Linked DNA regions of Homo sapiens: all the other regions are linked to region 1. Evidence: fine-mapped expression QTL. A gene starts in region 1. Each other region holds a variant in brackets. All regions are shown on one strand. Distances are from middle to middle. Region 1 holds the start of EEF2K (eukaryotic elongation factor 2 kinase). Region 2 overlaps EEF2K (eukaryotic elongation factor 2 kinase). Region 3 overlaps SDR42E2 (short chain dehydrogenase/reductase family 42E, member 2). Region 4 has its middle 51 kb from the start of CDR2-DT.

What was found.
Region 2: its variant is fine-mapped to the expression of EEF2K in whole blood (TOPMed, PIP above 0.99).
Region 3: its variant is fine-mapped to the expression of EEF2K in whole blood (INTERVAL, PIP 0.93).
Region 4: its variant is fine-mapped to the expression of EEF2K in whole blood (TOPMed, PIP above 0.99).

The regions. Positions count from the first base shown.
Region 1 is chr16:22,202,736-22,210,837 of GRCh38, reverse strand. It overlaps EEF2K (eukaryotic elongation factor 2 kinase), which reads right to left and starts at 4,560. Exons shown (of 18, transcript NM_013302.5): 1 at 4,159-4,560. RefSeq lists an enhancer at 398-898 and silencers at 4,060-4,329, 4,490-4,789.
Region 2 is chr16:22,255,840-22,263,941 of GRCh38, reverse strand. It overlaps EEF2K (eukaryotic elongation factor 2 kinase), which reads right to left. Exons shown (of 18, transcript NM_013302.5): 7 at 7,045-7,194; 8 at 6,557-6,689; 9 at 6,172-6,299; 10 at 5,247-5,448; 11 at 3,413-3,480; 12 at 755-832. Among named protein-coding and RNA genes, the nearest start is that of TRL-AAG2-4, 37 kb to the left of the region's middle. The variant A/C (reference allele first, on the strand shown) is at 3,041.
Region 3 is chr16:22,163,512-22,171,613 of GRCh38, reverse strand. SDR42E2 (short chain dehydrogenase/reductase family 42E, member 2) reads right to left here. Exons shown (of 13, transcript NM_001394319.2): 2 at 5,977-6,067; 3 at 5,180-5,364; 4 at 4,615-4,710; 5 at 2,112-2,169; 6 at 663-781. The coding sequence starts at 6,031. Among named protein-coding and RNA genes, the nearest start is that of SDR42E2, 5.1 kb to the right of the region's middle. The variant G/A (reference allele first, on the strand shown) is at 4,134.
Region 4 is chr16:22,421,991-22,430,092 of GRCh38, reverse strand. It overlaps the pseudogene RRN3P3. Among named protein-coding and RNA genes, the nearest start is that of CDR2-DT, 51 kb to the right of the region's middle. The variant G/A (reference allele first, on the strand shown) is at 3,044.

The DNA of each region.
Region 1 (8,102 bases):
TCGGGCTCTGAACATGCTATGCCCTCTGTCTGGTACACACCCCAGCCTGTCCTCCCTACTCATCCCCTGGCCAACTTGACTGCTCATCCCTCAGGTCTCAGCTTAGATATCACCTCCTTCATGAAGCCTCCCCTGAACCCCAGGAGTTAGTCGCTCTTAGCTTCATTCTACAGATGAGAAAACTAAGGAACAGAGAGGTTATGTGACTTATCCCAAATCACATGACTAGAGTTGGGTTTGAAGCTGGTGCGGGCTGAATCCAGAGCTTTCAATGCAGTCATCACTTCCTTAACCAGCGCTTCTAAAAGTATGGGACCAGCTGCCGCAGCAGCCACTGCAGCAGCCTCACCTGGCAACTTGCTGGTAATGCAAATTCTCAAGCCTCACTACAGACCTACTAAATTAAACTCTGGGGATGGGTCCAGCAATCAAAGTGTAAGCAAGTCCTGCTGGGGATGCTGATGTGCACTGAAGTTAGAGAAACGCTGGCCTAGGGCAATTTTCCGCAGTTTAGCCACCTACTTCCGGGTGCTTCCTCTGGCTTGCTAGTCCTTGCTAGAGCTCGAAAGCTTCACAGCTGGAGAACAGAACGCCATCCACCTTCTGACTCTGGAGCCATTTGAGACGCTTCTCTAGGAGTCCCACAGCCCTGGGACTTTGGGGGTTGTGGGGAGCACTGTTATTTTCTGCTTTATCATCAGCGTGTTAGTGACTCACTCCTTCCTTTGTCTGAAGCCTTCTTATATGGTTGGGCACGGCTCATGCCTGTGATCCTAACACTTTGGGAGGCCCAGACAGAAGAATCGCTTGAGCCCAGAGTTCAAGCCCAGCCTGGGCAACAGAGTGAGACCCCATCTCTACACTAAAATTAAAAGTTAGCCAGCCATGGTGGTAGCTCATGTCTGTAGTCCCAGCTACTTGGGAGGCTGAGGCAGGAGGATCACTTGAGCCGAGGAGTTCCAGGCTGCAGTGAGCTGTGACTGTGCCACTGCACCGCAGCCTGGGTGACAGAGCAAGACCCTGTCTCAAAACAACAACAAAAAAGAAGCCTCCTTGCTTGTGCTCATCAGCCTTGGCTGCAAGAATTTGATCCAGCAACACTTTAAGGCCCAAGCCGCTTTCATCCCAGGTGGAGACAAGGTCATCGCTCTAACCACCTTCTAGGAGCCTTCTCAGTTCATCAGGGTAATAACCTGCAGCTTTCAGGTCAGCAGAACCAATCTCCCTCAACAAAAAACACTGATTCTTTTAAATTAGTTCAACCTGCCGCTATTACTTTGTCTATAGCCCTGATCATTCAGTTGTTCTGCTTCAGGTGTAAGAACTGGACCAGAAATAGTGAATCCCGGAGAACGAGCTTGAACAAGTCCAAGCTTCTGCTGTTCACCCTTGGCTTTCTTCACACAGCTCCCAGAGTCCCGGCAACCAGACGACAACCCTGCCAAAAACTGGACAAGACTGCTTTGGGGACTCTCCCCACAGCAAGATAACAACCCTAAAGACATCCTTCCCGGGTGGGCATGGTGGCTCATGCCTGTAATCCCAGCACTTTGGGAGGCGGGTGGATCACTTGAGGTCAGGAGTTTGAGACCAGCCTGGCCAACACAGTGAAATCCCATCTCTACTAAAAATACAAAAATTAGCTGGGCACGGTGGCATGTGCCTGTAGTCCCAGCTCATACTCAAGAGGCTGAGGCAGGAAAATCACTTGAATCTGGGAGGCAGAGGTTGCAGTGAGCTGAGATCACACTACTGCACTCCAGCCTGGGCAACAGAGCAAGACTCCATCTCAAAAACAACAAACACTCCCTCTGGCTTGTGGCTCTGCCCTCCTCTAGGCCTTCAAAGTCGCCTTGACTTGTCCAACAAATAAGGAAAGAGTGAGAGGTTTTTAGGGTCGAGGCTTGAAATGGACACACTCACATTTCATCAGCCAAAACTCAGCCGTGTGGCCCTACCGAATGGTAAGGAAGCCTAGGAAAATTCATCCAGGGAGCACCCCAGGAGGACGAGAACATGGGTACTGGTGACCCATAGCTTTCTCTGCCACATAATACAGTAAAATGTTTTAAAAGCAAATCAGAGATTTTTTTTTTTTTAAATAGAGACCGGGTTTCACCCCGTCAGCCAGGCTGGTCTTGAACTCCTGGGGTCAAGCAATCCTCCCGCCTCAGCACCCCCAAAGTGGCTGGGATTACAGGTGTGAGCTACCACACCCAGCCAGTGATATATCCGTAATCAGCCAAAAAGTACTGTACAGTTACAAAAAGCACAAGAAAAACAAATTGGTGGATCTTTTTTATTTTTTGAGACAGAGTCTCGCTTTGTTGCCCAGTCTAGAGTGCAGTGGTGCAATCTCAGCTCCCTGCAAACTATACCTCCTGGGTTCAAACGATTCTCGATTCTCCTGCCTCAGCCTCCCGAGTAGCTGGGATTACAGGCTCATGCCAACATGCCCAGCTAATTTTTGTATTTTTAGTAGAGATGGGGGCTCCCTATGTTGGCCAGGCTGGTCTCAAACTCCTGACCTCAAGTGATCCACCTTCCTCAGTCTCCCAAAGTACTGAGATTAAAGGCCTGAGCCACCACGCCCCTGGCCCAAAACACCGGTAGCTCTTGGAATGTACACCGATGATTATGTGTAAACTGTGACCACTTCAGTTCTGTCTTCTGGCCTCCCCATTCCCTGCAGAGGATAAGAACTTCGGACCCCACCCCCTTCTTTGAGAATGGGGGCTGAGAGGAGGGCGGACGCCAATCCCAGCCATGTTACACTGAAATTCATGTCCTTGAGAGGTTTTACTGTAGTTGTTGAATTAATAGCTGAACAAAGGAATGAACATCGGGTGCTGTGGAGGCCACACAGAAGGAAGACACCTGCATACGCCATCTCTGAACTCTACCTCCTTCCACCTGCCTCTTCCCCAGCTCAGCTTAAACAGCACTTGCTACAGGAAGCCTTCCCCCATAACCCTCTCCCCTTTACACACACAGTGGGCATTCTCAGCTCCCACCTGCTTGCTCTGTATTCCCATTTACTCCATCTCGCTTTTTAGAATCTGTTTATGTGACTGGCTTCCTCTTAGGGAGCTTCTGTGGGCCTGGGGATCACTCTGACCCTCGGTTTCCTCCTCGCTAAAAACATTAGGATAGACTACGTGACTCAATTCGCTGTGACTTCACAGCCTGTCCAGGGCCCTCAACCACAGGGCTCTTGGCCATCAGATGTCTCCCGGGGCCATAGACTATGACACTGTGTGCCAGGCACTGTTCCAAGCACCTGACATATACATACTCATCTACTCTTTCCAAGGATACTAAGTGGTAGATACTAATACTGTACCCATTTTACCGATGAGAAAACCGAGGGCCAGAGAGCATAAATGAGCTAGAATTCCAACCCAGGACTCCAGCCCTAGTGTTTCCTGCTTTCCTGGCTGAAGAAGCACCCACCACCGAGGTCCCAGAGGTCGGGCTCCCTGGGACCGTCCCCCTGGGCAGATCTCACTTCCCCATGCGGCCCATCTGTCACACTCAGGGCGCAGCTGGGCTGGTTCCCCGAAATCCCCCAGGCGCGCGCAAAAGGATCTAGGCCGGGGCTTACCCGGGAGGCCCCCACCCCCGCGCGGCCACCGGCTTATTAATGCCCAGCCCCTTGGCACACATGTCAGCAGCGCCTGCCAACAAACTCCCGCAGCCAACAATGCAGCAAGGGCGCGTCTATACAGTCCTGGAGGTTCCGGGAATTCGGGCTGACGCAGGCCTCTAGTTCAGGGGAAAGGTGGGGGATGCGGCTCTGAGCCCTGCAGGGGACAGGAAGGCAGCGATGCGCCCACACTCTAGGGGCCCCGAGGGGGGAGGCCCCCAAACTCTCTGTCACTTGCAGCCAGATCACCGCCCATTGCTTGCCAATTGCTTTCCATATCCACATCGCCTTTAATCCGCACAACTTCCCCATTTCTCCAAAGCAAGCACTTAGCCCCAGAGAGTTTAACAACCAGAGGAGAAGCGCCCCCACACTCTCCTTCCATGCCTTCTCCGGCCCCATTCCCAAGCCCAGACCCAGCACGCTCCAGACGCCAGCTGCACCCGGGCGCACAGGCCTGCAGCGCGGGCTCCCAGCCCCCCACAGCCTTGCCGGCCGCGGTCCACACCTACCTCCCTCGGGCAGACAGGCGCGGCAGCCGCTGCCCACGGCCGCGAGGGTCCAGAGGAGTTGGCAGAGGCTCGCGGCCCGGAGCTCCAGGGTGCAGGGCGGGCGGGCCCCCCGAGAGTGCCGGGGAGCGGAGAGCGGGGAGCGCTAGCTGGCGCTCCGGGCAAGCAGCTGGGGCCACGCGGGGTAGATGGACCGATCCCAGGGCGCGCGGGGCAGTCGGAGTGATCCCAGGAAGGGCGCAGGGGCCGTTGGGACGATCCCGGGATGTGGGAGCGCGTGCCAGGGGGGACTCGCGTGCAGGCGACAGCGAGCGGGACTCGGGTGGCTGCAGGGCCGGGAGTGCGGGCGCTCGATCCAGGAAGGAGGGGAGCTGAGGCTGAAGCTGGGGCTGGTCTAGGTTGAGCAGAAGCGGGCGGGCAGGGGCGGGGCTGGCCTGGCGGGCGCACGGCGTGGCGCTCACGTGGCCGCCCCCAGGTGGCCATCACAGCGCCTGCAGCCGCCTAGCGGGCCTCCTGGCTCCGGCGCTGGCTCCCAGCCCCAGGTGCAATGGTTAGCGCTAAGTCTTGGCTCCCCCTGCTGAGTACACAGTGTCCGGTTCTCCTGCTCAAGGCTGGCCTAGCATCCGGCAGCGAGGGGGCAATTCGAGGGAGTGACCAACTTCCGTCCTCTCCCGCCGCGCCTCGCCATTCTCGCCTGCTTCTCGCTTAGTTCCTGTATTCCTGTCCTTTCCAAAATCATTAGTGATCCAAGCCCATCGCTTGTTTGTATGTATCTCTATCCATAACCTTAAAATATTTTTTATCGGAAATACTTTGTTTTTCCTGATTTCTGCTTTGTAAAAACAGGCACGTATGACGATTGCAATTATTTGTGTAGTTTTAAAATTAGTATCTCCTTTAGTTATTCCTAACTCTTGACACAGGGCCTGGGTGGCACACAGTAGATGCTTAATAAATACCTGTGGCATGAGTGGTAGAGTGGCTAAGGTATAAAAAAGAAAACGAATTAAAACTAATAGCTACTGTGAACACTTTAATATTAGGTCCTTCCAGATACTTTGTTAGTGAAATTTTAGAAATTTCACACATTCTAGATAGAAAAGTAGTAACAATGACATGTTTTGAGGGATTTCTCTCATTCCATCTTCCCAGCACTTTGGGAGGCCGAGGCCGGCAGATCACCTGAGGTCAGGAGTTCGAGACCAGCCTGGCCAAAACGGTAAAACCCTGTCTTTAGTAAAAATACAAAAAAGCAGCCGGGCGCGCCTGTAGTCCCAGCTACTCTGGAGGCTGAGGCACGAGAATCGCTTGAACCCTGGAGGCAGAGGTTGCAGTGAGCCGAGATCGCGCCACTACACTCCAGCCTGGGTGAAGGAATGAGACTCCGTCGCAAAAAAACAAAAACAAAAAAATAAAAAAGAAAAAAGAACAAAACTGAGGCTTATAGAGATAATGACATGCCCCAGGTGAGGCAGCTAGAAAAGGCAGAGCCAGCAGTAAATCCAGACTTCTCTGATTTCAAAGTTCAGGCTCTCCAAAGAACTTTTTTCCTTATTTATAAACCCCAAAGAGAGTAAACTCCAGCTTTTGGCAAGACAAAATTGCACCTGGAATTCTGACCCTGGGGCCGTCAGGCAGGAAGGGAAGATCAAAGATGCTGAACTAGTCTGTCCAAGCCCAAAGCAAGATTGGAAAAAAAAAAAAGACGCTACTGCTTAAAGCTCTATGGCCCTTGGGCAAGTTATTTTACTTCTCTGAGCCTCTGTCATTTTTGTCTGCCCAGCAGGAGTGTCCTTCTTTGCATTAGCGTCTTGGTTAGTCTTCAGGGAACCAGTTCACCCTATTTCAGTTCAGGAAAATAGCCCTCCCCACTCCCCTGGCTCCAAAAATGGACACATGACCAGACCTGGCCAATTAGCATATTTCATCCCTTCAGCCTCATTGATTGGTTCAGGGATGAGCATGTGATCCAAGTTAGGCCAGTGAAATACTAATCTGGGCCTTTTATAGTAACCATAAAAAGAGAATGTCTCTTTTCCAGGGAGTTGAGCAGATAGGATGTAATAGTAGAGTTTCTGAGCATTAATTCTTATGGCAAATTTTATTAAGCTCCTATTGTGTGCCAAATATGGTGCTAGGAATTGGGGGAAACATTTGCCTTCAAGGAGATGTCTACTGCGGTAAAATAAAATTACTCAAGGCCGGGCAAGGTGGCTCACACATGTAATGTCAGAGCTTTGGGAGGCCAAGGCAGGAGGATCAATGGGGCCAGGAGTTCAAAACCATCCTGGGCAACATAGCAAGACCCCTGTCTCTAAAATAAAACATTAAAAAAAAAAAAAACCCAGGTATGGTGGTGTGTGCCTGTAGTCTCAGATACTCAGGAGGCTGAGGCAGGAGGATCCCTTGGGCCCAGCAGTTTGAAACTGCAGTGAGCTATGATCATGCAGTGCACTTCAGCCTGGGCAACAGAGTGAGACCCTGTCTGTAAAAATTAAATAAATAAATGAAAAAGGCCAGGCTCAGTGGCTCATGCCTGTGATCACAATACTTTGGGAGGCAGGCAGATTGCTGGAGCTCAGGAATTTGAGACCAGCCTGGGCAACATAGCGAAACCTCATCTTTATAAAAAAATACAAAAATTAGCCAGATGTGGTGGCTTGCATCTATGGTCCCAGCTACTCAGGAGGCTGAGGTGGGAAGAACACTTGGACCTGGGAGGCAGAGTTTGCAGTGAGCCAAGATCCCGCCACTACACTCTAGCCTGAGGGACAGAGTAAGACCTTCTCTCAAAATACAATAACAAAAACAAACCACAAACAAAAAAGAAAGTGAAAAGACAATCAGAGAATGGGGAAAAAATATTTGCAAATCATATCTGATAAGGGATTTGCAGCTAGAATATATAAAGAATTGTTACAACTCAATAATAAAAGATAAATACTCCAATTTAAACATGGGCCAAAGATTGGAATAGACATTTCTCCAAAGAAGATATACAAATGGCCAATAAGGACATGAAAAGGTGCTCAACGTCATTAGCCACTAAGAAAATGCAAGGCCAGGCATGGTGGCTCATGCCTGTAATCCTAGCACTTTGGGAGGCCAAGGTGGGATGATGGTGTGAGCCCAAGAGCTCCAGATCAGCAAAGGCAACATAACAAGACCCTCATCTCTACAAAAAAACAAAATAGAAAAATTAGCCAGGCTCGGTGATGTGTGCCTGTAGTCCCAGCTACTCGACAGGCTGAGGTGGGAGGATAGCTTGAGCCCAGGAGTTGGAGGCTGCCGTGAGCTATGATTGCACCACTGCACTCCAGCGTGGGTGACCAAAAAAAGCAAGTCAAAACACACCCACTACCCACTAGCATGACTATAATCAAAATCTCAGATAATAGCAAGTGTTGGCAAGGATGTGGAGAAACTAGAACCCTCATACACTGCTGGTAGGAATGGAAAGCAGTTTGGCAATTCTTAAAAAAAATTAAACATGAAGTTACCGTATAACCCAGCAATTCAAATCCTAGCAGAAATGAAAACATATGTCCACACAAAAACTTATACAAAATGTTCATGGGAATATTATTCATAATAGGCAAAAGGTGAAAACAATCCAAATGACTGATGAATGCATAATTAAAATGCAGTAGGCCAGGCGGTGGCTTATGCCTGTAATCCCAGCACTTTGAGAGGCCGAGGCGGGCGGATCACTTGAGGCCAGGCTGGTCTTGAACTCCTGGCAACAACGTGGTGAAACTCCGTCTCTATTAAAAATACAAAAATTAGCCAGGTGTGATGGCATGTGCCTGAAATCCCAGCTACTCGGGAGGCTGAGGCAGGAGAATCACTTGAACCTGGGAGGCAGAGGTTGCAGTGAGCCGAGGTCACACCACTGCACTCCAGCCTGGGCGACAGAGCGAGACTCCATCTCAAAAAAGAAAAGAAGG
Region 2 (8,102 bases), 53 kb before region 1:
GGCTCCATTTCAGCACAGGGTAAGACCTCTAAATGGCAGATACTGTCTGAGGTTGCCCTCACCAGGATGCTGCTGGGAGGCTACCCAAGGAAACTGACCTCCAAGGCCCTCCTCCCTGGGGCCTCACAGGATCCTGCCTATGAGTGGGTCCAGCTATTACCCAGGATCCTCTCTGCTCAGCAGCCCAGGACTCCCACTTCACCATAAGATTTGTCAGCCATTATCAGCCTTATATCTAAGCCTCCACACTTGCCCCGTTACTGGTCCACATGATCCTGTTTTATCTTCTTTGCATTTATCTTTATCTGAAATACTCTTTATTTTATTTTATTTTGAGACAAAGTTCACTGTGTCACCCAGGCTGGAGTGCAGTGGCACAATCTTGGCTCACTGCAACCTCTGTCTTCTGGGTTAAAGTGATTCTCCTGCCTCAGCTTCCCCAGTAGCTGGGATTACAGGCATGCACCACCATGCCAGGCTAATTTTTGTATTGTTAGTAGAGACGGGGTTTCACCATGTTGGCCAGGCTGGTCTCGAACTCCTGATGTCAGGTGATCCACCCGCCTTGGCCTCCCAAAGTGCTGGGATTACAGGCGTGAGCCACCATGACCGGCCTGAAATACTCTTTATTAATTTACTTGTTATCTTCTCAGGACCCACTCATATTCCCCCTCCAGGAAGGGGAGTTTTCATTTTCCTGGAGGATAAACAAGGCAACAGGTGACACCGGTCTCATTTCCTGGGGGTTCCTTACATGTTCTCGGGGCTCAGGGTCATCCAGCTCACCCCGCTTCTCACTGGGGTATCCGCTGTCCCCACTATTCTCAGACTCCTGTGGAGAGAAGACGGCCTTAGGGTCCTGGTGGTCCCCTGAGCACCTGGAAATGGTTATGACATCTCAACACCCCAACTGTTAGCTTTCTCCCCTCTGTCCCATTACCTAACACCCTGCTCCTGCTGTCCCTTGCCGGGTGTGGTGGCTCATGCCTGTAATCCCAGCACTTTGGGAGGCCGAGGCAGGCAGATCACTTGAGGACACAAGTTCAAGACCTGCCTGGCCAACGAGGGAGCAGTATAAGGTAACAGTAAGGACCTTGGGCTCTACAGCCAAATGACCTGGGCTCAAATCCTGGCTTTATTTCTTGCCAGCTGAGACCTTGGGCAGTTGCTTAACTTCTCTGAGCATCAGTGTCCTTAGTTATGGGATTCATTATAGCCCCTACATCGAAGGGCTGTGTGGGTGAAATGCACTGTTACATTCTGAGAGTGTGGATCACAGGAAGTGCTTTACTGAGAGTGACTCACCCACTTCACAGGCAGAAAAACAAAGGCTGGTTAAGGGCTATGACCCACGGACAAAAATATAGCATTGGGAACAATATTTAATACAAATAAGCCCTCAACCAAAACCACACATTTTTATTTTTTTTTTGAGATGGAGTCTCGCTCTGTCACACTGGCTGGAGTGCAGTGGCACGATCTCAGCTCACTGCAACCTCTACCTCTTGAGCTGAAGTGATTGTCCTGTCTTAACCTCCCAAGTAGCTGGGACTACAGGCGCCTGCCACCACGCCTGGCTAATTTTTGTATTTTTAGTAGAGACGAGGTTTCACCATATTGGCCAGGCTGGTCTCAAACTCCTGAACTTGTGATCCGCCTGCCTTGGACTCCCAAAGTGTTGGGATTACAGGCGTGAGCCACCGTGCCTGGCCTAGTTGGGCATATTTTTTATTCTCCCAGGTCTGAGTTCTGTTCTGAAAGCGAATCTGGTATAATTTAGAATCTCTAAAACTTCAGCCATGTACCTACCAACATTGAATTATAGCTCTCTCTGCATGTCACCTGCACAATTAGTAACGGAATAGTTTTATTTCCTTCTTTATTCTTCTAAGAAGTATCTTTTCTGTGTGTGTGTGTGTGTGTGTGTGTGTGTGTGTGTGGCAGGGTCTCACGTTGTCACCCAGGCTGTAGTGCAGTGGCGTGATCTCAGCTCACTGCAACCTCCACCTCCCAGGTTCAAGCAATTCTCTTGCCTCAGCCTCCTAAGTAGCTGGAATTACAGGCACATGCCACCATGCCTGGCTAATTTTTATATTTTTTGTAGGGATGAGGTTTCATCATGTTGGCCAGACTGGTCTTAAACTCCTGGCCTCAAGTGGTCTGCCTGCCTCAGCCTCCCATAGTGCTGGGATTACAGGTGTGAGCCACCACACCCCGCCTCTACTAAGAAGTATTTCTTTTTTTTTTTTTTTGAGACTGAGTCTCGCTCTGTCGCCCAGGTTGGAGTGCAGTGGTGCGACCTCTGCTCACTGCAACCTCCGCCTCCTGGGTTCAAGAAATTCTCGTGCCTCAGCCTCCTGAGTAGCTGGGATTACAGGAAACTGCCACCATACTCGGCTAATTTTTGTATTTTTAGTAGACATGGGGTTTTGGCATGTTGGTCAGGCTGGTCTTCAAATTCCTGACCTCAAGTGATCTGCCCCCCTTGGCCTGCCAAAGTGCTGGGATTACAGGCGTGAGCCACTGCGCCCAGCCTCTACTAAAAGGTATTTGTTTTTTCTTTTTTTTTGAGACAAGATCTCGCTGTCACCCAGGCTGGAGTGCAGTGGTGTGATGATGGCTTACTGCAGCCTCTGCCTCCCAGGCTCAAGAGATCCTCCTACCTCAGCCTCCTGAGTAGCTGGGACTACAGGTATGTGCCACCATGCCTGGCTAACTTTTGTATTTTTTTGTAGAGATGGGGGTCTTGTCATATTGCCCAGGCTAGTTTCAAATTCTTGGGCTCAAGTGATCTGCCCACCTTGGTCTCCCAAAGTGCTGGGATTATAGGCATGAGCTACCATGCCTGGCCAATTTTACTAAGAAATATTTCAAACACACACACAAGCATAGAGAGTATTATAATTTGCCATAATATACATTTGTGAGAATGCAGATAAGATGCCTTCAGTTTCTTACCACCAAGTCAACCCAAAGCTTCAGGAAATGTTCTGTTTATCTAACTGGAGAGCTAGGTGTGAAGAGCTAGAACACATGGCTT[A/C]CTGTGCTATGTGTTACACATCTAAGACCCAGTATTAGGGCTCTATAGGACAACCAACACATGTGGGGTCAAACCAAACCTGGAGCTGAGACTGGCATTTACTACAAGATCGCATTGTTGCTGACTGGGAGTCCCTCTTCCCTAACCATCTCTGGGAACTGCAAGGGACCCACCTTTTCTCAGAGGAAAGCTCAGCCTTGGACTGGAGGCTGACATTCATCTGCATCCTCCCTAATTCCCCCATTCTGTGCCCTCCTGGCAGTGCCTGGGCTAGGCTGCCCACCTCCGAAGCTGAAGATTCACTCTGGGAGTGAATCCACTCCTACCCCTGCTGGGGTCTGAAGCCTGCAGCCTCCCTCCCTTCACACTCACCCGGTGGTTGTCTAGATGATCATGGTCTCTGGATGCCATGTTATCGAGGTCACTGAACACTGGCCAATCTGGGCAGGGAGAAACAGACATCATGTCCTGGTTCCACTACTGGAACATGCATAAGACCAACCCACGGCCTAGGGCGGTCCATACCTGCCACCAAGCCTTTTTTTTTTTTTAAGCTTTAAAGAAAGGCACAAAAAAGGAGAAGAATGTTATCAGCACCTGGAGGCTAAAGTTCTTCCTTGAGAACTTATTCTAAGTCTGCTGTTTGCCAGCTACATGATTCTGGCCAAGTGGTGTCACCTATGTGTGTCCTCAGGGTTGTCACAATGCAATTATCCTTGTAATGTGTTTATTAGCATATGTGCCTGGCCACCACTTGGTCCTCAATAAAATGCAGTTGTGAAGGAAGAACAGACGTTTATACATTTGGGGCTCAAGAAGTGGGCCTCAGATAGCTTCAAAACCATCTTCAGCTGGGCACGGTGTCTTATGCCTGTAATCCCAGAACTATGGGAGGCCGAGGCAGGTGGATCACCTGAGGTCAGGAGTTCAAGACCAATCTGGCCAACATAGTGAAACCCCATCTCTATTAAAAATACAAAAATTAGCTGGGTATGGTGGCATGCACCTGTAATCCCAGCTACTTGGGAGGCTGAGGCAGGAGAATCGCTTGAACCCAGGAGGTAGAGATTGCAATGAGCCAAGATCACGCCACCGCATTCCAGCCGGGGTGACAGAGAGAGAGATTCCGTCTCAAAACAAAACAAACAAAAAAAAAACACCAACCATCTCCTGGTGGTTCCCTATCTCTGTCTCCTGCCCTCTACAGCCAAATCTATCTGTCTGTTTTTATAGTTTGTAAGAACAGTGTTTACATTTTTAAATGGATGACAAAAATTAAATTTCACCATCCATAGAGTTTTATTGGAACACAGCCACATCCACTCACTTAATATTTTCTATGGTAGCTTTCATGCTCCAAATGCAGAGACTGAATGACCTGCAAAGCTTAAAATATTTACTCTCTGACCTTTTAAAAAAGTCTGTTGACTCCTGTTCCAGACTATTCCAAAGACCTTCCAGTGGAAACATCTAAAGGGCTTCTTTAATGTTTGACACTAAAATCTTTCTCTCTTTCAAAGGTATCAAAATGAGAAAAATTAAAAAACTAAACAATAAAATCTTGCTCTCCTGCTCTGAGCCTGCTCCCGCTCACACTTTCCCTGAATACATGACCTCCAGCTCTTTAGGCCAATACCCTGGGGTCAGTCTTGCCTCTATCCTTTCCTACAGACTCTCATCTGAATCATCAGCAAACTCCACTCTTTCAGTGTCAGAAATAATGATTCTGTTTTTCTCCTTTGACCCATTAATATCACATTCATAGCTTTTCTAACATTGAACAACCCTCAGATTCCTGTGAAATCCCTATTTAACTGTGACAGGTGAACCTTTTAACATAGTACTATTTTTATTTGTTAATATCTATTTAGATTTTTTTTTTGTTCTCTATACACAAATACAAATTTTAAATAAGGTTGGGATATAATTTTCTTTTTTAGTTTGTCAAATTTATTATATAGGTTTTGCTGGTTTCATAAAACACACTGATAAAAGTTACTTTGTTTCCTACAATAGGGGTTGTTTTTATAGCATTTGGATGATCTGTTTTGAAAGTTCACTCAATGAAACTCACCTATAAAACCACTGGGGCCATGAACCTTTTCGATTAGCATGTCTGATTTTTCTAACATAAATGAAAGCTGGTTTAGCTCTGCTCCACCTGTCCCCTCCAATCACAGTGACTAGGGACCGAACCGTCACTCACGGAGGTGGTCTAGCTTCTGGCTGTGTGGTGTGGCCGAAGATGGGGAAGAAGGGAGAGAGTCGAAGGTCACGTCGCTCATGTTCTCGTCTCCAGAGTTCTCTGAAAGGGGACGGAGCAGGGGTGGCCGGCTCCCAGAGAGGGTCCTTACTTGGGGGCTCCCACATTTTTCCTCTGTTCCTCTCAAGATGGTCTTGGCTGATTGCTAGGGACATTAATAGGGATACTCATGTCACGCACACACCCTCTGGGAATTAAAGGGCTCTTCCTGTTGTTCCCTCTAACCCTGAAACCCCTTCATCCACAGCTCCTAAACATGCCTGTTTAGGAGCTGATATATTGTCTTAAAAAATAAAAAATCAGTCAGGGATTAAACCTAAGGCCTCCAAGAAAGGGCATCTGGAACAGAGGCTCAGAGGACCTGCCAGTATCCCCTAAAGCACTGACCACATTCCACAGCCCAGAGCTGGAGAAAGCATTCCACTCTATGTCCAGCATCCCAAGCTGGTCTTTGCAACATTCTCTTGTCCCTGGTCCAAGTAGCAATGGGAGGATGGGAGGTATGTTGGTGAGGTGCCTGGAGAGCCAGGTCTAAGACTAGTTCAGTCATTTGTCAATACATCACACAAACACACACACACACCACATGCCTTCTCACTATCTCCACGTGCCTGTTCCCCTCACTCTGGTAAAAAATGGGCCCAACCTAAGCAGATACCAGCTGCTCGATTGGAAGGACGCTCAGGAGGGCTTTGTGCACTGAGCTGGAGGGGACGGGCTGGGGCATGGATGGGACAGATGCTTCCAGCCCTGGTATTCATCAGTTAAGCACTGCTTGACCTGGCTGTCACCACACAGGGGAGCAGGGCTTGCTTTGCAAGTAGCAGAAGGGCCTGCCAGGCCAAGCAGGGTCACACTGGGCACCCACCAGCAGCTTGGTGTTCTGATTCACTGCATCCCTCTCCCGGGGCGAGAGGTCAAAGGGAGCAAGGCCCATGCTCTCGCAAATCCGGTTGCAGGCATGAGAGTAGAAGAAGAGCGCCATCCCGCGGACACCTGTGGACAGAGCGGGGGTGTCTGGAGTGTTGCTTTGCTCTGTGACGGGGGACAGGCAGTGGTGGGCCTCATACATATGGCCAGGGCAGGTATAAAACGTGCCAAGCTGGGAGGCATCAGACATCCAGGCTCCCATCTCCATGATCTTGAAAAAGCGCGTACAGTGTCTCAGCCTGTTTCCTTGGCTGTACGAAGAACTCAGAGGTTTTAGCAGGGAGCGTGGTTTCTGCAGAAACAGGCTGGCTTTCCCCACGTACCTAGGTTGCCGTCTCCAAAGTCAGTGCCCGTCTCCGTGTGGATCTGTGGGTCAGTGTAGAGATCCCCAACTCCCTGGATGTCCACCACTATCAGCTGATGGCCGGAACGCTCAAAAGTGAAGTGGCTGAAGGCCTACAGGGGACAGGAAGGAAAACGAGATGTCAAGAGACAGGCTGAGGTCTGTGCAGGCACTGGCCACGCCTCTGCCCATGCTGAGGGGCTTTCTCTTCAAGGAGTTATATAGAGGAAAAGACAAAGGAAAAAGGCCTCTTCAGTTGGGCAGGGACCTTGGGCTGCAGGTCCTGTGGCCACCTTAGGTGACAGAAGCTGTCATGGGGTGACGGGTCTCCTTCTGAATGCTCCAAGAGGCTTCTCTGGGGGTGAGACTCCAAGCCCACAGGGACCTTCCTCTTTAGGGGCTGAGCCTGGCCAGGATCTCACCCCAAGGGCTGTGGTGGGCAGAGGGTGGAGGTGAGCTCGGCCTCACCTGCGGCGTCAGGCGGATGTTGTCATCGCGGACAAAGCCAGAGTTGGAGTTGTACTTGATGTACTTGCCCTCGATGTAGTGCTCCAGGTGGAAGAGGGGCTTGCCCGGTCTGTCCTTCAGCTCGATGATGCACATCTGCATGATGTCCACCTGGTGGGATGGGGAGTGGGCTCAGGCGGGAGGGCCCAGGCGCACCTCCTCTGAGAAGCGGCAAGGGGAGGGCTCAGAGGAACTCGCCTGCCTGGGCTCAGACCCTGGCTCCATGACTTACTAGCTCTCTATTGTAGGAGCTCCTGATGATGCCCAGAATCTAATCTCCTCTTTTCCTTTAATTTTTTTAAAATTAAAAAAAATATATTTTTAGGCTGGGCACGGTGGCTTACATCTGTAATCCCAGCACTTTGGGAGGCTGAGGCAGGTGAATCAGTTGAGGTTAGGAGTTCGAGACCAGCCTGGCCAACATGGTGAAATCCTGCCTCTACTAAAAATACAAAAATTAAGGCTGGGCATGGTGGCTCACACCTGTAATCCCAGCCCTTTGGGAGGCCAAGGTGTGTGGATCACCTGAGGCCAGGAGTTGGAGACCAACCGTGGCCAACATGGTGAAACCCTGTCTCTACCAAAAATACAAAATTAGCCAGGCATGGTGGCACATGCCTGTAATCCCAGCTACTCTGGAGGCTGAGGCAGGAGAATCACTTGAACCTGGGAGGCAGAGGTTGCAGTGAGCCAAGATTGCACCACTGCACTCCAGCCCTGAGCAACAAGAGCAAAACTCCGTCTCAAAAAAAAAATTAATAAAATAAAAATACAAAAATTAGCTGGGCGTGCTTGTGCGTACCAAAAATCCCAGCTACTCAGGGTGTCGAGGCAGGAGTATCACTTTAACCCAGGAGGCAGAGGTTGCAGTGAGCCAAGATCATGTCACTGCACTCCAGCCTGGATGACAGAGTGAGACTCCGTCTTAAAAAAAAAAAAATTTATTTTAGAGACAGGGTCTCACTCTGTCGCCCAGGCTGGAGTGCAGTGTCATAATCATGGCTCATTACAGCCTCATA
Region 3 (8,102 bases), 39 kb after region 1:
TTGCAGTGAGCTGAGATCATGACACTGCACTCCAGTCTGAGTGACAGAGCAAAGCAAGACCTTGTCTCAAAACAAAACAAAACAAACAAACAACACGCCTGTAATCCCAGCACTTTGGGAGGCTGAGGCTGGCAGATCACGAGGTCAAGAGATGGAGACCATCCTGGCCAACATGGTAAACCCTGTCTCTACTAAAAATACAAAAATTGGCTGGTTGTGGTGGCATGCACCTATAATCCCAGCTACTTGGGAGGCTGAGGCAGGAGAATCTATTGAACCCAGGAGGCAGAGGTTGCAGTGAGCCAAAATCACGCCACTGCACTCCAGCCTGGGGACAGGGTGAGACTCTGTCTCAAAAAAACAAAAGAAAAGAAAAGAAAAAAAAACAGGCTCAAAGGGCTTAAGTGATTTGCTCAGGGTCAGGGTCACATGGGTAGAATGCGGCCAGGTTGAGGCTAAGGCCAGACCTGTCTGATTTCAATGCCCCTGCAGGTGTGACCAACTGAAACAGGAGAGTGCTGACGCCACCCAGTTTTGGGAGCCCCTTCCTGCTAGGACGTATCCTGAGTTGTGAAACCAACCCTGCTTCCACCCATCCCTCCCCTCTGAGCTGTGGGTCCCGGGCCCGCGGGTCCTGCCCACCTCTCCCGGAAGACAGGTACCTCGTCCAATGGGAAATATGGCACAGAGTCCTCATCGCCCTGCTCTATGGGCTTCCCTCCAAATGCAACATTGACAGTGCTGGTATAGATGAGCCTTGGAACCCGCCGGCGAACACAGACTGCAGCAGCAGGTGCACATAGCAACAAATAAACACACACACACATGCAAAGACACAGACACACACGGGACACAAGTGAGCATAGAGTCGGCTGAGGAGGTGTCATGCAGATCTCTACCAAGTTTTCAACACACAACTTGGACCCCCAGGACCCTCCCAGAATCTACAGCTGTTCAGGAGGGAAGAGTCTCCTGCCCTTAACTTAGGGTGCAGGTCAAGTTCCTGCTCTGTGGGCCCCTGGGAGCCAGGTCTGCTCCTTATTCTTTCTCATTGTGGCTTGGACCCCTGGGCTACCTTGCCAGAGACAGGTCAGAAGAAGGTCTCACTGGATGGAGACTTAGAAAAAGACACTCTAGAATCAAAGACATACGGGATAAGGCAGGACATGCCCAGGCAGCCCACACATGGGTCTGCGATTTTGGTGCTTTAGTAACTTTTTATTTATCTGTTTGTTTATTTATTTATTTATTTATTTATTGAGACGGAGTTTCACTCTTGTTGCCCAGGCTGGAGTGCAATGGCGCGATCTCGGCTCACCACAACTTCCCCCTCCCAGGTTCAAGCGATTCTCCTGCCTCAGCCTCCCGAGTAGCTGGGATTACAGGCATGCGCCACCACGCCCCGCTAATTTTGTAGTTTTAGTAGAGATGGGATCTCTTCGTGTTGGTCAGTCTAGCCCCGAACTCCCGACCTCAGGTGATCCACCTGCCTCGGCCTCCCAAAGTGCTGGGATTACAGGCGTGAGCCACCTCGCCCAGACTTATTTATTTATTTTTAAATTTTATTTATTTATTTATTTTGAGATGGAGTTTTGCTCTTGTTACCCAGGCTGTAGAGCAGTGGCACGATCTCGGCTCACTGCAACCTCTGCCTCTCAGATTCAAGCGATTCTCCTGCCTCAGCCTCCTAGGTAGGTGGGACTGCAGGCACCCGCCACCACGCCTGGCTAATTTTTTGTATTTTTAGTAGAGGTGGGGTTTCACCATTTTGGCCAGGCTGGTCTCGAACTCTTGACCTCAGGTGATCCACCCCTGTTGGTCTCCCAAAGTGCTGGGATTACAGGCATGAGCCACCACGCCCAGCCAGCTTCGGCAACTTTTCTTTTTCCAGTCCCTAAGCCCTGAGAGGTAACTCTGGTCCCCATGTTCCCAGACATGCTAAGGCCACACTGACACACCCATGCAGGGCCCTGGGGAGGTCTGCAGTGCACGAAGGATGCGCTGCCCACAGGCCCTCCCTTTGACCCTACACCCTGGGAGCCAGGCCTGCAGCAGGAGAAGGGAGAGAGGGGGAGAGGCACAGCAGGTCATACCCGGCTCTGAGCACCTACCATCAATCACTAGTTTGGTGCCTCCAACATTTATAGACTCAATCTGCTCTTTCTGCAGCTAAAAGACAAGACAGGTGAGAAAGTCATGGTGCTACCCATGCCTTCTTGCTGAGGCTGGAAGGCTGAGCTTGGGGTCAGGTGGGACAGGGCAGCAGGATGTTCAGTTCAGAGGCAGGGATCCCGAAGGCCCACCTGGAGTGTGGGTGCCTGGCTCTGCCACCATCTTCCTGGGTGGCCAGAGGAGGTTCTGCCCACACATCTGTCCCTCAGCAACCTCATTTGTAAAGTGAGGGCCAACCTCCTCCCCTGGGTGGTGGGCGGGACTCAATAAGACACTTGAGAGGACCTGGTACAGTGCCTGGCACAGAAGATGGGCTCAGAACCTGTTGGGTCATTTTCCTACTCTCAAAGCCTCAGTTTCCCTATCTGTAAGGTGAACATGGTAATATGGGCTGGGCCCTCACGAGGGAGCTGGGATGTGAAAAACAAAAATTAGGCCGCTGTGAGGGCTCCTGTGGGCCAGGAACAGGGCAAGAACTTCCTGATCCATGATCTCATTTAATTCTCATCACACCAGGAGATGAGCTCCATGCTTATTTTTAAGCTATATTTATTATTATTATTTTTTTGAGACCGAGTTTAGCTCTTGTTGTCCAAGGTGGAGTGTAGTGGTACAATCTTGGCTCACTGCAACCTCTGCCTCCCGGGTTTGAATGATTCTCCTGCCTCAGCCTCCCAAGTAGCTGGGATTACAGGCATGCACCACCATGCCTGGCTAATGTTTTTGTATTTAGTAGAGATGGGGTTTCATCATGTTGGTCAGGATGGTCTCAAACTCCTGACCTCAGGTGATCCACCTGCCTTGGCCTCTCCAAATGTTGGGGGTACAGGCATGAGCCACTGCTTCCAGCCTATATTTATTCTTTTAAAAATTTTTGGCCAGGTGTGGTATCTCATGCCTGTAATCCCAGCACTTTGGGAGGCCGAGGTGGGCGGATCACTTCAGGTCAGGAGTTTGAGACCAGCTTGAGCAACATGGCAAAACCCCATCTCTACTAAAAATACAAAAATTAGCCAGGTGTGGTGGCGTGCAACTGTAATCTTAGCTACTCAGGAGTCTGAGGCAGAAGAATCGCTTGAGCCTGGGAGGTGGAGGCTGCAGTGAGCTGAGATCATATCACTGCACACCAGCCTTGGTGACTGAGCGAAACTCCGTCTCAAAAATAAATAAATAAATAAAAATAATAAAATTTACTTTTATTATTTTTAAATAGAGATAGGGGTCTCACTATGTTGCCCAGGCTGGTCTCGAACTCCTGGGCTCAAGCAATCCTCCCACCTTGGCCTCCCAAAGTGCTGGGATTACAGGTGTGAGCCACCACACCTGGCTCTATATTTATTCTTGTTGTGGCTGTTTTTGTTTCATAGGCAACACGATCAAGGTTAAAAAGAATTCAAACAGTAAAATGGGTGTATAGTGAAAAAGAAGGTTCCCTCCTACTCCTGATTCCAAATCTTCCTTTTCCCTCCCCAGAGGCAGCCACTGTTAAATTTCCGGTGTTTCTCGAGATAATCTATTCTTATTAATATCAGCATATAAGCATGTGTGACTATAGAAATAAATAGTTTCTTTAGCTTTTTTTGGAAACAAACAGGAGAATGCCAAACACTGCTTTGCACCTTGGAAACTATTTTTTTAATCTGCACACTTTGAGTTACCTCTTTCTTTTGAATGGCTGCATAGAATTTGACTGTAAAACACAATTTATTTAAATAGTCCTCAACTGATAGGTTATTTCTGGTGTTTTGTTATTAAAAACAATGCTGCAAATACACAAATGAGTGTAATTTCTGAGGCAACGGGTATACATATGTTTTGGTGGATACTATTACATTGCTCTCTGAAGAGGTTGTGATATTACCAATAGTAATATCCTCACTTTCCAGATGATGAAAGAGGATCAAAGAGGTTAAATAAACTTGCCCTAGATAACACAGTTATAAAATGGCAGAAATGGGGCC[G/A]GGTGCGGTGGCTCCTGCCTGTAATCCCAGCACTTTGGGAGGCCAAGGCGGGCAGATCACCTGAGGTCAGGAGCTTGAGACCAGCCTGGCCAACATGGTGAAACCCTGTTTCTACTAAAAATACAAAAATTAGCTGGGCGTGTTGGTGGCACCTGTAATCCCAGCTACTCAGGAGGCTGAGGCAGAAGAACCACTTGAACCTGGGAGATGGAAGTTGCAGTGAGCTGAGATTGTGCCACTGCACTCCAGCCTGGGTGACAGAGTGAGACTCAGTCTCAAAAAAAAAAAAAAAAAAAAAAAAAAAAAAAAAAAAAATGGCAGAACTGGTATTTGGTGTCATGGATGCAGGATGCAGGGTGGGAGTAGCCCAAGTCCCTCCTATAATAGGTGAAGCATGATAGGGAATGCATGGGTGTGAGGGCAGAGCCAGGACTGGAACCCCACTCTGTCTAACTCCAGGTGTTGTGTGTGAGGAGCCCACCTTCTCAGCCCCGGACATTCCATAGGAAGCCACGTGGAAGACACAGTCCACCCCTTCGAAGGCACGGTACAGGGCTTCTTCATCTCGGACATCAGCCTGCACCAGAGGAAGAAGAGATGAGGGCAGGGGGTTCAAGTCCAAGGCAAGAGATAACACCTCTGCACCTTGCCTGGTCTCAGAACTGGCCCCCTGACCCAGCCCAGGCCAAGCCTCTGTAGCATCAGGAAAGGCTGGTGGGGCAGGATTCACTAAATGATTCTACAGGGCACCGTGAGCAACATCCCGTGCTCATTCATCACGCTCTGTAGGTGACAGGGGCTGTGCTAGGTTTATGTGCACTGTCTCATCAACTCCCAATGAGACCCTGTGAAGTAGGTGTTGGTTACTATTGTCCCCTTTCTGTGACCATAGCTACCCAGCTGGTAGCACCAGAGCCAGAGCTATAGCTCAAACAGTCTGGCTTCAAACAGTGTGCCCCTAAACTCCACACCACAGGTTTCACATCAAACACTGTCCCCTGACCATCACCACTGCCCCAGTCTATTAAGACCCTTGTTCCTTGTACCTGGATGAACTTGGTTTCCGGGGACAGTTCCCACTGGGGTCTGCGGCGGTCAAGCAGAATGACGGAAGTGCCGCTCTTGGCTAGGTGGGATCCCAGGCTGAAGCCCAGGTAGCCTCCTCCTCCAGTCACTAGAACCTTCTGCCTGGCAGCCTTTGTAGGTTTGGCTTGAGTCTTCTGCTGCGGCGCTGGTGTTGGGGTTGTTGTTGACTCACTGGGTCTGGGCCCAGTCCCAGACCCCTGTCTGAGCCCAGGCCCTAGCTCTGGCTCAGGTGTAGACCCAGCTCCTGCCCCAGGTACTGATCCAGCTCCCGGCCCAGGTACCGATCCAGCTCCCGGCCCAGGTACCGATCCAGCTCCCGGCCCAGGTACAGACCCAGCTCCTGGCCCAGCTCCTACACCAGGTCCCAACCCACCTCCTAGACCAGGTCCCGACCCAGCTCCTGGTCCAGGTACAGACCCAGCTCCTGGCCCAGGTACGGACCCAGCTCCTGGCCCAGGTACGGACCCAGCTCCTGGCCCAGGTACGGACCTAGCTCCTAGACCAGGTACGGACCCAGCTCCTGGCCCAGGTACAGACCCAGCTCCTGGCCCAGGCCCTAGACCTGGTCCAGTCCCTGAAATAGCACCAGGCCTCGGAACAGTACCAGAACCCGCCTGAGGTCCTGGAATAGCTTTGGGCCCCAGTCCAGGCCCTGGAATGGCACCAGGCTTTGGTGCAGGCCTTGACTCAGACCCTGAGCCAGACCTTGGACCTGAGACCTCTCCACAGGCCTGGCAGACAGGGCAGCTCTTCTCACCCTGGCCTGCAGCTTTGCAGGCCTCTAGGGAGGAGCGTGGGGGGTTGGACTTCATCCTCTACTGAGCCATGCAGACCCAGAAACCGACCACCTGTGGGAAAAAAAATAGAAGAAAGAATGCTCTAGAATCGTTTCAAGTCACATAAATTATTAGACCTCTAGGACTGAGGGGAACTCCAGGTGGAAATTAGAAATTCTCTGAGTTCCCAGGGAACCTGCCCCTTTCAGAATCTCAAGAATCTCCAGTGTGGGCCCGGCGTGGTGGTTCACGTCTGTAATCCCAGCAGTTTGGGAGGCTGAGGTGGGCGGATCACTTGAGGCCAGGAGTTGGAGATCAGCATGGCCAACATGGTGAAATCCTGTCTCTACTGAAAATACAAAAATTAGCCGGGTGTAGTGGGGCACACCTGTAATCCCAGCTACTCAGGAGACTGAAGCACAAGAATTGCTTGAACCTGGAAGGCGGAGGTTGCAGTGAGCTGAGATGGTGCCACTGCACCCCAGTCTGGGCAATAGAATGAGACTCAGTCTCAAAAACAAACAAACAAACAAACAAACAAAAAACTCCAGTGTGGCTGCTGTCCTCTGCACAGAGTCAGAGACAAGGCAGCCAAGACTTGGATTTTAGAGCTAAGAAAATTGAGGCCCAAAGTCACGCTGTGTAACTGAGGTTGACATTAAGCATTCCTGACTTATCTACCAGTTCCTTAAAATTCCAGTTTCCATGGAGTACCAAAGGAAGACAGGGCAAATCATCCAGCGGGAACCTCACCAGACTGGGAGGTGGCTGCTTTCTGACTGGGGAGATTGGGAGAGCCTTCTGGAAGAGGAGGAAGAGAAAGAGGAGGAGGAGGAGAATCCACATGGATCCAAAAGGACTCTGCACCCTGGAAACTTGCACATGACTCCAAGTGCTGTGCCTGTCTCCACCCTGATGCCTGACGCCTCTGGTCCTCCAAGGTCCGACAGTAGTGTGGGTGGCTGGTACCACACGTTCTGCCCAATCCCTCTGCAGGCTTTAGGGTCTGGTCTATGGGCCTAGGGGGACAGCACTGAGGATCCTGTTCTTTGCAGCCTCAGACTACTTTCTTTTCTCTGTCGCCCAGGCTGGAGTGCAGTGGCACAATCATAGCTCACTGCAGCTTCAAACTTCTGTGCTCAAGCGATCCTTCCATCTTAGCCCCACAAGCAGCTGGGAATACAGGTGCATGCTACCATGCCTGGTGAATTTTTGCATTTTTAGTAGAGATGGGGTTTCACCATGTTGGCCAGGCTGGTCTTGAACTCCTGACCTCAAGTGATCCTCCCACCTCAGCCTCCCAAAGTGCTGGGATTACAGGTGTGAGCCACCGCATCCAGCTCCCTAGATCTTTTTTTAATTTTTGAGACAGAGTCTCACTCTGTTGCCCAGGCTAGTAGTGAACTCCTGGAACTCAAGCAATTCTCCTGCCTTGGCCTCCCAAAGTGTTGAGATTACAGGCGTTAGCCACTGTGCCCAGCCCTCAGTCTAGACTCAGGGCAAGCCAGGCTGTCAGTCACTGTCACCATCGTCCATCCCCCCACCCCCCTCCCGACCTCCCTCTCCACCTGAGGATGAGGCTGGATGACCAGGGCTAGGTGATCATTAACCGTAACAACAGCAACCATGTGCTAGGGACCTCTGTGCGCCAGGCCCTACATATACAGATAGGTGCATCTCTGCCCTGCATGGCATATACTGGCTGCATGAAAGAACGGGTATTTGTTGAGTGACTGGACTGATGAGCCCCATGTTTTTTTGCTGGTGGTGGTCACAGGGCAGGGACTCTGGCAGCTAGAGGGGCTGTATTTTTAATTTCCTCTGTTACTGCCCTGCTCACCAAATGTCTGGGTGAGGAATACAGTCCTGCCCCGTATAAGCACGAACACTCATGGCTTTATTTATTTATTTAGAGAAGGAGTCTCACTCTGTTGCTCAGGCTGGAGTGCAGTGGTGTGATCTTGGCTCACTGCAACCTCCGCCTGCCTTGTTCAAGCAATTCTCCTCCCTCAGCCTCCCGAGTAGCTGGGACTACAGGCACGCGCCACCACACCTGGTTAATTTTTGTATTTTTAGTAGAGACGGGGGTTTCACCATTTTGGCCAGG
Region 4 (8,102 bases), 220 kb before region 1:
TCTGCTTTATATTGTTATTTTTACCAGCACTTGTTATATTCAGCAATTTCTCTGTGGTAGGTACAGTTGTCACATGCAGCTCACATCCGCAGAGTCACTCCAGCATGTTAATGCCTCTGTCTGTGTTGTTTTTTTGTTCCACAGTAAGTACCAGCTCGTCTTCTGCTACACCATCATCGAGAGGAACAATCGCCAGATGCTGCCAGTCATTAGGAGTACCACTGGAGGAGACTCAGTGCAGACCTGCACAAACCCACTGGACACCTTCGTCCCCTTTGATCCCTGTGTGCTGAAGAGGTAGGTACTTTTAAACATTGATGCTGGAGGAGGTGGATTTTTTTTTCTTTTTGAGACGGAGTCTCGCTCTGTCGCCCAGGCTGGAGTGCGGTGGTGTGATCTCGGCTCACCTCAAGCCAGCTCGCCCACCCTGGCATGAGCTGGCTCATGCTTATAATCCCAGCACTTTGGGAAGCCAAGGTGGGTGGATCACCTGAGGTCAGAAGTTCAAGACCAGCCTGGCCAACATGGTGAAATCCCGTCTCTACTAAAAATACAAAAATTAGCTGGGTTGGTGGCCCACACCTGTGGTTCCAGTTCCTCGGGGGTCTGAGGCAGGAGAATCGCTTGAACTTGGGAGGTGGAGTTTGCAGTGAGCAGAGATTGAGCCACTGCACTCCAGCTTGGGTGACAGAGCGAGACTCCATCATGGAAAACAAACAAACAAAAAAAAGCACTGCCATCTATGAATAGCAGCATGGCACAAAACAGAAGCCACTAGAGAGAGTATTGCGGGACCCTCGTTTTATGTAGCAAGAAATGGAGGCTCAGAGAAGGGGCGACTTCCAAGGGTGAGTGACCCAGTGCAAGGAGCCGGCTTCCGTTCGACTGCAGATTCTAGCCCTTCACCAACTCACTTCTCCTCACCAAGGGCTTCACTTGCACCACTGCAGTCTTCCTTTCAACAGTCGTGGGAGACACAGACCAGTCCCCATTTTACAGATGGGGAAAAAGGAGGCTTGGGGAACTCCTTGGCCAGAGGCCACAGAGGCCTCCCAGTGGGACTCTGTGCTCTGCAAAGAAGGGAATCTGGGGAGCAGGCACCCTTTAGAGAAATAATCTGCATCGAACATCCACAAAATCCAGCAGGAGGCCACCAGGAGCTGACCCCCATGCAGAGAGGAAGCACCAGCACTCTGGGTGAGTGAGGCCAAGGTCACAGTCAGTCCCCAGGAGAGCCGGCAGCCGGCCCAGGGCCCAGATGGGCCTCTGGCTCAAGCCCAGCAGAGGCTGTGTCCACTGGGCCTTGAGGTCTGCACGGGAGGCCCGTCCCTCACCCCCCAGGGCAAGAACAAGCCCACGCCTCAGCCCTGTTGGCGGTGGAGCAGGAACATCCCTGCAGTGCTTTAAGGGCACACTTGTTATTTTTTGTTCAGCTCGTGGCAGCAGGTGTGCCTTGGAATCTAGATGTTTTTTGTATCCCCAAGGGAACCCAGGCTCAGGTTTTAGGCTAGAAAACAAGACAACTGCAGATGGTAATTATCCCCCAGGATCACTAGTCAAAGGCTGCTTTTGGTCAAGAATCTCAACCTGCGTGCCTGTCTGTGTGGCACACCCTCCTCAGGAACAGCCTCGCAACTTTCCCTGGAACCTCCCCTTCCCCACTACACCTGGTCCTGGCGAGGATATTATTCACATCAGTGAATAAAATGCTAATTTTAGTGGGGGGCTGACAAACAGTTCTCACACACCAGTGTGCACCAACATCCCCTGGAGAGTGTGTTGGAGCACAGACTCCTGTCGGCCCGGCGGCTCACACCTGTAACCCCAGCACTGTGATAGGCCAAGGCGGGAGGGTAACGAGAATGCATCTCTACAAAAATAAAAATAAAAAAGTTAGCTGGACGTGGTGGTGCATGCCTGTGGTCCCAGCTACTCGGGAGGCTGAGGCAGGAGGCTTGCTTAAGCCCAAGAGATTGAGGCTGCAGTAACCTGGGATTGTGCCACTTAACTCCAGCCTGGGCAACACAGTGAGATCCTGTCTCTCAAAAAAAATAATAATAATAACAATAACATACACACAACACAACCTGTGCTCCCTCTAGACATTCTGACTTGGCAGGTGCAAGGCAGATCCAAGAATCTCATGCCAGCAGGCTCCCAGGTGCCGCTGATCCCGCCAGTCCGTGGCTTTGTAAGGGTATCTGCTGTGTTGCTGGCTCGGCTTCCATCCTCCTGCGTCCTGGGTCCAACATTCCTGTTTTCCTTGGGAGCCCATCCCCGACTCCCATTCACGGGGTCCAGAGACAGGAGTGGGTGGGGACCTGGGCATGGCCACTCAGAACAGCCCTGTCACTGGCTGCAGCAATTGGTACAGGCATGGGCACGTGACTCAAGACCAGCCAATGAGAGCCAAGGAGTTTTTTTCTGGGACGTATTTAAAGAGATTATTTCCATAGCTGTGCCCCGCAGCAGGTGAGGGCCCTCCTGAGAAAGTGTCCACACAGGAGGGCAAAGCCAAGGTGGGGGATATCAAGGCCCAAGCCAATTTCGGGGCCTCTGAATGTAGCTGTACCTGAAGCCAAGTCAACCCCTGTACTAATAAGCCTCTTTTTAAAATCAGTTTGATTTAAGTTCCTATCACTTGCTTCCAAGAGTCCTGATACAAGCAAATAAAAGTGGCCAGGTGCAGTGGCTCATGCCTGTAATCCCAACACTTTGGGAGGCCGAGGCAGGTGGATTGCTTGAGGTCAGGAGTTCAAGACCAGACTGGCCAATATGGTGAAGGCCCATCTCTACTAAAAAATACAAAAATTGGCCGGGTGCAGTGGCTCACGCCTGTAGTCCCAGCACTTTGGGAGGCTGAGGCGGGCAGATCACCTGAGGTCAGGATTTCGAGACCAGCCTGACCAACATGGAGAAACCCCATCTCTACAAAAAATACAAAAGTAGCCAGGCGTGGTGGTGCATGCCTGTAATCCTAACTACTTGGAAGGCTGAGGCAGGAAAATCGCTTGAACCTGGTAGGTGGAGGTTGCGGTGAGCC[G/A]AGATCGTGCCATTGCACTCCAGCCTGGGTGACAAGAGTGAAACCTGGTCTAAAAAAAAAAGTAAAAATACAAAAATTAGCTGGGCGTGGTGGCAAGCACCTGTAATCCCAGCTACTGGGGAGGCTGAGGCAGAAGAATTGCTTGAACCTGGGAGGCGGAAGTTGTGAGTCGAGATCACGCCACTGCACTCCAGCCTGGGCAACAAAGTGAGACTTAGTTTCAAAAAAAATAAAATAAAATAAAATAAAATAAGTGACTAAATTGGCCAGGTGCAGTAGCTCATGCCTGTAATCCCAGTGCTTTGGGAGGCAGAGGCAGGTGGATCACCTGAGGTCAGGAGTTCCAGACCAGCCTGGCCAACATGGTGAAACCCCGTCTCTACTAAAAATAGAAAAATTAGCCAAGTGTGGTGGTGCGTGCCTGTAGTCCCAGCTACTCAGGAGGCTGAGGCAGGAGAATTGCTTGAACCCAGGAGGCGGAGGTTGCAGTGAGCTGAGATTGCACCACTGCCCTCCAGCCTGGGTGACAGAGCAAGAAGACATTGTCTCAAAAACAAACAAACAATCAAACAAACAAACAAAAAACAGTGACTAAACTGAGAGCAAAGAAATGGAAGGGAGGGAGCAGGAGGATCATCAGTTTCCATCCTTTTACTGTGTGCTCAAATGTAATTTGGCTGCAGGTGAGGTCTGTGCAGACCCTGGGTGAGGGGCGAGTTGGCTATGGCCTGTTTAACTCCACCTGTGCAGACTGCAGCTCAGCCTCGTCCATGCTTCGTGACTCAGCCTTGTCCTCAGGGAAGCTGGGGCTGGTGCAACTTTCAGAAGTGGTCCCAGGTAAGCCTGGCCCTCCTGAGTCCATGGGTGGGGAATGCTGGTACAGGCCTAGCAGCTGGCTTTCCGGGGCTGGGTGGAGGTACAAGAGCGGTGATGTGTGGTGTTCGCCACTTTCCATGGTGCAATTACCCCTGCATGGCCGAGTTCAAGTTTTGAAGGTGCAGTCACCAATAGTGGAGTTGGGAAGAGATTTGCACAGTCAGCTCCAGAGCCAGCATGCACCATCTCCCACCCGTCACTGCCCCCTGCCTTCCTCCCTCTTGTCCCTGCAGCCTGGGATCTCACTGCTGCTCTCCAAGTGAGGAATTCCAGTAAGGCTTCTTAAGACTTCTTTTTGGTTTACCTGGCAGAACCCCACCTCAAACTGGCTTAAGCAAAGAAGAGGGAGATTTGCCAGCTCCGATCCTAAAGAGTCAGGGCTGCAACCGGGTGCAGGGGTTGTCGACTGCCAGGGCTCTGAGTGCTCCCCCAGGCTCTGCTTTCCCCAGGGGACACTCATGGGGGTTCCCTGATGGGGCAATGGTGGCCACCCGAGGCTGTGGCTTGGCCTCCAGTGGAGCGACGTCACCTCTTTCCCGGCAGTTCCAGCCACCATCCCAGGGCTGATTCTCAGGGGCCCGGCTTTGGCTGCTCATCTGGCCAGCCCGAGGGTGACCCCGCCTGGAGCAAGGTGTGCTTGGAGAGTGGGAGGCAGCACTCCCGCAGGACAGCCGAGGACGCTGTTCCCAGAGTGAGGATGGGGCGCCCTCCTCACTGGACGTGCGTCCTGGCCATGGACCCCGAGCTGACCTCGGCCCCTCCCTGACTCGGTTGCTCTCAGGTCCAAGGCCACTGCTGCTGTCTCTGTCTCCCAGTGTCAGCCTCTGACCTTGTCCCAACCCCACTTTTGGCTTCCCCACCGGCTTCACATCTGCTCAAAGGATCTAGGCCCTCCCTGCCACAGACCGAAAGAAGGATCCGGTGTCTCTCCCGGGCCATGGAAATGAGCTGGGTCATCCCTCCCTTGGCTCCCATCCACGTGGGCCAATCTGGTTTCACTTTATTTGTCATTTTCTCCAAAACCCAGTTTCCTTTTTATTTCTCTCCTACTCAGCTTCACTTGCTCCCGGTCCCCTCCCCGTCTCTGCAGCTGATTTTTCCAGGTTCTCGGTCCTCTCCTTCACAGATTTTCTGTCCTCTTTGTTCACCCAGATTGGGAATCTGGAGCTGCTGGGGATGGAGGGAATGAGAACCTCAGATGAAGGACAGGTAGGGCTAGAGAAAGGTTTTCAGAGAGAAACAGAGAATGAGATGAAAACACAGCAAACCCTGGATGGAAGGAGGGGCAGTGCCCATAAGACGAAGGGAAGGGAGCGGACAAGGTGCAGAGAACTGCACACAGACAGGCTCCCGAGGCCTGGGCCACACCGTGGCAGGGCCAGAAACAAAGCGAAACAAACAGAGAGGCCAAGGAAATTTCCGTTGGTGGGGACACTGCCAGCAGTTTTCCTAGGAGCTGGGGGTGCCAGCACTTGGAGCAAGCACGGGCCAAGGACGATGAGTAACAGAGGTGGCAGCAAGGGCTCTTTCCAGGGAGTGTGTATGGCCTTGAAGGCCAAGGAAGAAAGGCTGGGGGAGCAAAGCGGTGGGGAGGAGGGAAGGGGGAGAGGAGAGGTGCCAGTCACAAAGGAAAACAGCAGCCAGATCCACGCGCTGCCACACTGTGCCTGTCCCACCTCGAGTACCCCCGCAGATAGCTCAGCTCATTCCCTAAAGGTGCGGGAGGGCCCAGCTCATTGGGCAGGGCTGTATGAAGCGCTTGGCACCATTCCGGGAGAATTAAGCATTTAGTAAACAATAGCTTCCTTCAAAATAAATCCAAACGAGGCCTGAGAGCCCGGAGTTGGGGGGTGCCTGCCAGGCTGTCCGCATGAGAGGAGGAGGTTCTAGGGACGTCTTGGCTCCTCTAGTGGGGCACAAATCGGCAGCTTCAAGATGAGAGACGGGAAGAGTGAATTCCTTGGAGGGGAATCTTGGCACTGTTGGGACTGGCACTGTGGCTGTGCAGTTCAAGGACGACCCCTGGACTGAGAGGAAAGGATGTGACCATCACGCTTATATCCCGGGAAAGTGATTTATCATTGCAAATTCATAAACTGGCAGTCTAGTTCCTAAAACGACTACATGTGTGTGCACGTGTGTGTGCATGTGTGTGTGTTCATGTGCGTGTGTGTGCATGTGTGTGTTCATGTGCATGTGTGCACATATGCACTGTGTATACATTGTGCATGTGTGTTCATGTGTGTGTGCCCGTGTGTGCATGTGTTCGTGTGTGTTCGTGTGCGGGTATGCGTGTGTGCACTGCATGAGCATGTGTGTATACGTATGTGCATGTGTGCTCATGTGCATTGTGCACATGTGTGTGCACGTGTGTTGTGTGTGCGTGTGTGAACACATGTGTGTTTCCATCTCCATTCTGTATGTAGCTCCTGTTTCTTCCCTCAGGCCTGGGTGTGAATATTTTTGGGGAAGTTAGGTAGAAGTCAGTGTCGCCTCGCTCTCTACAGATGTTTTCTCTGCTTTCTGGTCCTCAAGACTGAAAAATGAAAATGTACCAAACAGCTTTCAAAGTTTACCTGTTAGAGATTCAGCCACTGGGGAGCCACTGTTCCTGTTCTTGCTCACTTCAGATTCTAAATTCCCAGAGCAGTGACTCTGATTGGCCCAGCCCTGCACTAATTAGGAGCGGGACTGAGGAAGGGGCTCTGATTGGTCCAGCATGGTTTGAGTGCCCATCCCTGTCCAATCAATTGTGACCAGGGGTGGGATCATGTTAGACAAAATGTCAGGCGGTGGAGTCACTGTTGTTATCATTTGGATCCAAAAGCCCATTTCTTTTTTCTTTTCTTTTCTTTTCTTTTTTTTTTGAAACAGAGTCTTGCTCTGTCGCCCAGGCTGGAGTGCAGTGGCGCGATCTTGGCTCATTGCAAGCTCCGCCTTCCGGGTTCACACCATTCTCCTGCCTCAGCCTCCGGAGTAGCTGGGACTACAGGCGCCTGCCACCATGCACGGCTAATTTTTTTTTTGTATTTTTAGTAAAGACAGGGTTTCACCATGTTAGCCAGGATGGTCTCAATCTCCTGACCTTGTGATCCTCCCACCTTGGCCTCCCAAAGTGCTGGGATTACAGGCGTGAGCCACCGTGCCCAGCCCAAAAGCCCATTTCTAATCGTCCACCTTCCCAGATGCTTCCCAGGTGCACCGTGACCCCTGTGTGCTGTGTGGTCTTTTGTAGGGAGAAAGGATCAATCAAGAAAGGGAAACCCCTGCTCCCATGGAGCTTGCCTTCTGGTGGAATAAGAAAATTAGTAAACATTAATTAATAAATAGGTACTTCTCTATGCAAGTTTACAGAAAAATAAACAAATATGTACATAAGAAAGAAGATGGTTTTGGATAGCGATAAGTGCTGGATGAAAATGAAACCAGGTGATAAGCCAGCGATGACTCCACTGAGGGAGGTTGTGAGCGTTACACAACATGGTCAGAAAAGACCCCGTTGGACCCAAGTCCCAGCTGGTAAGAAAGTGCCAGCTTCATGACGGTGGGGAGAAGCATTCCAGTATCACCGTTTTAAAATATGAGCATCCTAAATATTACACAAACCATACTTACGCTAAATATTTGGGATCTACACTAAAAATGTAGTGTAGTGTAAAAATGGGGTTTCACCATGTGGGCCAGGCTGGTCTCGAGCTCCCAACCTCAAGCTATCCACCCACCTCAGCCTCCCAAAGTGCTGGGATTATAGGCGTGAGCCACTGCACCCAGCCAATCTGATGGGTTTTTTTTTTTTTTGAGACGGAGTCTTGCTCTGTCACCCAGGCTGGAGTGCAGTGGCGCGATCTCCGCTCACTGCAAGCTCCACCTCCCGGGTTCACGCCATTCTCCTGCCACAGGCTCCTGAGTAACCCCTTTTGCTTGGTTCTCATTCTCTCTCTTGGCTGCCACCATGCAAGACCTGCCTTTCGCCTTCTGCCATGATTGGGAGGCCTCCCCAGCCACATGGAACTGTGAGTCCATTCAACTTCTTTTTCTTTGTAAATTACCCAGTCTCGGGTATGGCTTTATCAGCAGCATGAAAACAGACAAATATACTGTTGTTTCTTATTAAATGTTATTGGCTTATTTTGAAAACAAAAGCTTACCAAATACATGTGATTATGGGAAGGGGCCAGAAAGT